Linked DNA regions of Homo sapiens: region 1 is linked to region 2. Evidence: fine-mapped expression QTL. A gene starts in region 2. The other region holds a variant in brackets. All regions are shown on one strand. Distances are between the middles of the regions. Region 1 has its middle 28 kb from the start of CFAP144. Region 2 holds the start of CFAP144 (cilia and flagella associated protein 144).

What was found. PIP is the estimated chance that this variant, and not a neighbour inherited with it, causes the effect.
Region 1: its variant is fine-mapped to the expression of CFAP144 in sun-exposed skin (GTEx, PIP above 0.99). The same link has a PIP of 0.9 or more in esophagus mucosa.

What each region holds. Positions count from the first base shown.
Region 1 is chr1:43,118,771-43,121,678 of GRCh38, reverse strand. No RefSeq gene overlaps it. Among named protein-coding and RNA genes, the nearest start is that of CFAP144, 28 kb to the left of the region's middle. RefSeq lists enhancers at 1-277, 826-1,466, 1,467-2,108. The variant G/A (reference allele first, on the strand shown) is at 1,348.
Region 2 is chr1:43,146,604-43,149,511 of GRCh38, reverse strand. It overlaps CFAP144 (cilia and flagella associated protein 144), which reads right to left and starts at 1,608. Exons shown (of 4, transcript NM_001101376.3): 1 at 1,428-1,608. The coding sequence starts at 1,560.

The sequences.
Region 1 (2,908 bases), 28 kb after region 2:
AATCAATTAAACACCCAATCAAGACAAAGCAACACTTAACACAGTAGGAAATTGTGTTGCTTTTTTTTTTTTTTTTTTTTTTTTTTTGAGCCCTTGCCTACCTTCTCCTCAGTGCAACACAGTCAGGAGGAAGTCACACAATTCCCCTTTCAGAGGGAAAAGACTGGGACTTGTTTGCACTGTTCTGTCTTGTCTGGAGGCTGCCTGAGGAACTGATTTTTATCTCATCTGACTCAGCTTAGATGGGAACGGTGGCATAGTTGGATAGCAGGTTGGACCCCACTGAAAGCAGTGGCAGGTGCCATGGCACATGAAAACTGCCGGAGAACTGTAGACCCAAGGGCACTTGGAGCGGGAGATTACAGGCAGAGAATTACAATGGAACATCTAAGACCCTGAGAAGAAGCAGGGGTGAAAGTCTTAGGAAAATCAAGACGTTTAAAAGCCGCTGTGCATATCTTTGAAAAGCCCACAACTAACGTCATACTCAATGGTGAAAGACTGAAAGCTTTCCCTCTAAATTAGAAGCAAGAATGTCTCTTTTTATCACTCTATTCAACATAGTACTAGAAGTCTTAGCCAGAGAAATTAGGCAAGGAAAAGAAATAAAAGGCATCCAAGTTGGAAAGGAAGAAGTAAAATTATCTCTGTTCACAGACAACTTGGTCTTATAGGTAGAAAACCCTAAAAATCCCAACAAAAACAGTGTTGAAACTAATAAACCAATTTAGCAAAGTTACAAGATATAAAATCAACATGCAAATATCAGTTGTCTTTCTATGCACTAACAACAAACAATCCAAGAAGGAAATTAAGAACAAAATTTTATTTACAATAGCATCAAAGGGATAAAATACTTAGGAATAACCTTAGAGGCAAAAGACTTGTTCACTGCAAACTACAAATTTTGGTGAAAGAAATTAAGGAAGACACCCTTAAGTAGAATATCCTTTCCAATCCATGTTCATAGATTGGAAGATATAATATTGTTAAGAAGTCAATATTACCAAAAGGGATCTACAGATTTGACATAATGTCTATCAAAATCTCAATGATTTCTTTTTAGAAATTAAAAAATTACCTGGGCAATGATTCTATGAAAAAAAATCCACGTCAAACTAAGATAAAATCTCAAGGGACAAAACAATCGAAAAACAAAGTCGGGGAGGAGCCAAGATGGCCGAATCTACAGCTCCCAGCGTGAGCGACGCAGAAGACGGGTGATTTCTGCATTTCCATCTGAGGTACCGGGTTCATCTCACTAGGGAGTGCCAGACAGTGGGCGCAGGTCAGTGGGTGCGCGCACCGTGCACGAGCCGAAGCAGGGCAAGGCACTGCCTCACTTGG[G/A]AAGCGCAAGGGGTCAGGGAGTTCCCTTTCCGAGTCAAAGAAAGGGGTGACGGACGCACCTGGAAAATCGGGTCACTCCCACCCGAATACTGCGCTTTTCCGACTGGCTTAAACGGCGCACCACGAGATGATATCCCGCACCTGGCTCGGAGGGTCCTACGCCCACGGAGTCTCGCTGATTGCTAGCACAGCAGTCTGAGATCAAACTGCAAGGCGGCAGGGAGGCTGGGGGAGGGGCGCCCGCCATTGCCCAGGCTTGCTTAGGTAAACAAAGCAGCCGGGAAGCTCCAACTGGGTGGAACCCACCACAGCTCAAGGAGGCCTGCCTGCCTCTGTAGGCTCCACCTCTGGGGGCAGGGCACAGACAAACAAAAAGACAGCAGTAACCTCTGCAGACTTAAATGTCCCTGTCTGACAGCTTTGAAGAGAGTAGTGGTTCTTCCAGCACGCAGCTGGAGATCTGGGAACGGGCAGACTGCCTCCTCAAGTGGGTCCCTGACCCCTGACCCCTGAGCAGCCTAACTGGGAGGCACCCCCCAGCAGGGGCACACTGACACCTCACACAGCAGGGTATTCCAACAGACTTGCAGCTGAGGGTCCTGTCTGTTAGATGGAAAACTAACAAACAGAAAGGACATCCACACCAAAAACCCATCTGTACATCACCATCATCAAAGACCAAAAGTTGATAAAACCACAAAGATGGGGAAAAAACAGAACAGAAAAACTGGAAACTCTAAAACGCAGAGCGCCTCTCCTCCTCCAAAGGAACGCAGTTCCTCACCAGCAAGGGAACAAAGCTCGATGGAGAATGACTTTGAGAGCTGAGAGAAGAAGGCTTCAGATGATCAAATTACTCTGAGCTACGGGAGGACATTCAAACCAAAGGCAAAGAAGTTGAAAACATTGAAAAAAATTTAGAAGAATGTATACCTAGAATAACCAATACAGAGAAGTGCTTAAAGGAGCTGATGGAGCTGAAAACCAAGGCTCGAGAACTATGTGAAGAATGCAGAAGCCTCAGGAGCTGATGTGATCAACTGGAAGAAAGGATATCAGCAATGGAAGATGAAATGAATGAAATGAAGTGAGAAGGGAAGTTTAGAGAAAAAAGAAAAAGAAATGAGCAAAGCCTCCAAGAAATATGGGACTATGTGAAAAGACCAAATCTACATCTGATTGGTGTACCTGAAAGTGATGGGGAGAATGGAACCAAGTTGGAAAACACTCTGCAGGATATTATCCAGGAGAACTTCCCCAATCTAGCAAGGCACGCCAACGTTCAGATTCAGGAAATACAGAGAATGCCACAAACATACTCCTCGAGAAGAGCAACTCCAAGACACATAATTGTCAGATTCACCAAAGTTGAAATGAAGGAAAAAATGTTAAGGGCAGCCAGAGAGAAAGGTCGGGTTACCCTCAAAGGGAAGTCCATCAGACTAACAGCGGATCTCTCGGCAGAAACCCTACAAGCCAGAAGAGAGTGGAGGCCAATGTTCAACATTCTTAAAGAAAAGAATTTTCAACCCAGAATTTCATATCCAGCCAAACTAAGCTT
Region 2 (2,908 bases):
ATTTTCTCTATAGAGCCAGGCAACAAAGTGGACTTTACATATTAGGCACAGAGTTGGGAGAGGCATTCAGGAAGAAGCAACAATGTTTATGCAGGTAAAGTGGGAAATGACATGATGCATTTAGGAAATCCATGTATTTAGAAATGGCAGGGGGGAAAGGAGTGTGTGTGGGATTCGTCAGCAATGGCTGGTGCAGAGTAGGCACCAAAGTATTTCTTAAAGGAGCAGGGTAAAGTGGGGGAGAGGAGTATGGCATGAAGCTGGCAGGAACCAGAGCCAGATCCAATGCGCCTTATGTCGTGATTGATTTAAACTTTACCTCAGAGGCTATGAGAAGGATTTTAGGTGGGATTGATGTGATCTAATTGTCCTCCTAGCATAGTGCTAAGCTAGCAAAGGTGTAGGGGTTTGGTCGGAGGGGCCAGCTTGGAGGGAAAGAGAATAAGGAGTTGGGAGCCCATCAGACCAATCCAGGCGGCAAGGACTAGGGCCCTGCAGAGGCTTCAGGAGTGAGGATGCAGGCAGAGGCTGTTTGAGGTGCTACTTAGAGCATGAAAGTACCTGAGCAGAGGCAGAGAGGAATCCATATGCATGATGGTGTCTTTCACTGAAGCAGGAACAAGTGGGTCAGGGGAGAGGAATGTTAATAAACAGGACTTGTGCCTTTTTTTAAGTGTGTGGAGGGAGAGAGACCTTGAGGAGGACTCCGAGGCTTCTAATGATCATGAGATCATTAGATGATGAGAGTGAATGATTCTGATCATGAGAGTGAATCATCCGGGGCCTTTTGCAGAGACAGGGTATTCTGGAGCAGCAGAGAGTGGGGAAGGTGGGAATGAGCCTGGCTTTCCTCCTGCTGGGTCTGAGGTGCCTGTGGGTTGTCCAGGGAGGGGAGCTGTGAGGTGGTTGGGCGTGTGGATCTGAAGCTCCATTTCAGGCCCAGTGGCATTCAGGGGAAGCTGGTGTGACAGGACAGAACAAACTGCCCAAGGAGAGTGCTCAGTGACAAGAGTGGAGGGTAGGGATGTTTTATCAGGGGGCACCCCAGAACTTTCCGAAGGGCAATATCAGAAGCCTGAAGAAAAACCTTTCACTTGTTAAAAACAACCCAAAATACAAACAAAAACAAAACACAAACAGCCTGCAAAATATAATTATTTCAAAAGTAAAATAATAAAAAGCCCTACAACTTTTTTTTTTCTACAACGAAAAGATTTAATCGTGTTGCGCATGAACTTTAATACAGCGAATACATCTGATATGATGTGGCCTCTCCAAAGTCATGGTTCCTGAAATCTAGGAAAGGGGGCGGGTGCTGGGGAAAGAGTTTTTGCTGGGACCGCGTTCCCACCCCGCAACCCGGAGGGCTCCTCCTTCCCCGGCGCCCTCCCGCTCTCGCCCTTCCCCCACCCCGCCGTGCCTCTCACTCTTGCGGAGGGGATTCACGTGATACTGCGTGTAGAGTTTCTGGGTTCGTAGCTCCTTGAGGTACAGTTCCCGCAAGATCTGGTTCTGATGGACCTCATCTGGAATCACCTTCTCTTTTGGGTGTCCCGCCATGGCCTTGGGCTGCCACGCGCCCTCTTGCCTGGGCCTTCCACAGTCTCCAGGCAACGCGTCCCCGCTGTCTCCAGGCAACGGCGTCCCGTGGTCTCCAGGCAACAGCGCTCGGGTAGTGCTGCCCGGTCGGGGCGGGTCTCACTCTGCCAGCCCCTTACCCTGCCTGCATCGCCCCGCCCCGCGCCCGCCGGTCGGGATCTTATTTCGCGCCCCGCCCTATTCTGGCACTGTACTCACTTGCCCCAGCTCCTCAGGCCCGGCTGGTTACTAGAAGGTCCCCTGGATACCGCCAGGAAAGGGCTTCCCGGCAAGGGGCAGACCCAGGAGGTAAGGGACAGATGATTGGACCTCACCTTGGCCAATCATTTCCTAAAAAAGCTTTTGGAAGGAGTCAGAAACCTCTCCCACCTTAAAGCAGATGCCCAGAATCAAAACCTCACAAAAAAACCGGAGGTTTCCTCTCTGAGAAAACGTTCTGGCCAGTGTGACCAAGATTACCAATGTGATAATATTGACAGAATAAACCTTTCCTAATTAAGGAACTTGTTGACTTTATAGTTTATTTTTAATGTTTGTGTTTAAAATGCACGTAATATAATTTTACCATCTTAGCCATTTTTAAGTATTACAGTACAGTAGTATTAAGTATATTCAAACTATGTGAAACCAATCTCCAGAACTTTTTCACACCCATTAAACAACAAGTTTCCCTTTTCCCTTCTCTCCAGCCCCTGGCATTTCACTTTTTGTTTCTATGAATTTGAGTCTGCTAGATACCTTAAATAATGTAGTTTATTTTAAAAGAATCGCCGAGCACGGTGGCTCACGCCTGTAATCCCAGCACTTTGGGAGGCTGAGGCAGGTGGATCACCTGAGGTCAGGAGTTCGAGACCAGCTTGACCAACATGGTGAAACCCCATCTCTACCAAAAATACAAAATTAGCCAGGCGTGATGGCATATGCCTGTAATCCCAGCTACTCGGGAGGCTGAGGCAGGAGAATCGCTTGAACCCGGGAGGCGGAGGTTGCAGTGAGCCAAGATTGCGCCACTGCACTCCAGCCTGGGGGACAGAGCGAGACTCCTTCTAAAAAATAAAAAATAAATAAAAAGTAGGTCTAGCATAAAGAAAGAAGCCACCCCTATTTTTAGTAAGCACCTAAATACTGTCTGAAGACTGTGCTCTTCCCCACTCAGTACTTCATTCATTCATCCATCCATTCATTCGCTCAGGACACAATGTGAATTGCAGAATGGGTTTAGTCTGGGACACAGTGTTGAACAAAATTTTTAATTGGATTGTTTATCAATTTGTTGGAGTTCTTAATATATTATTTTGAGGGCTGTACA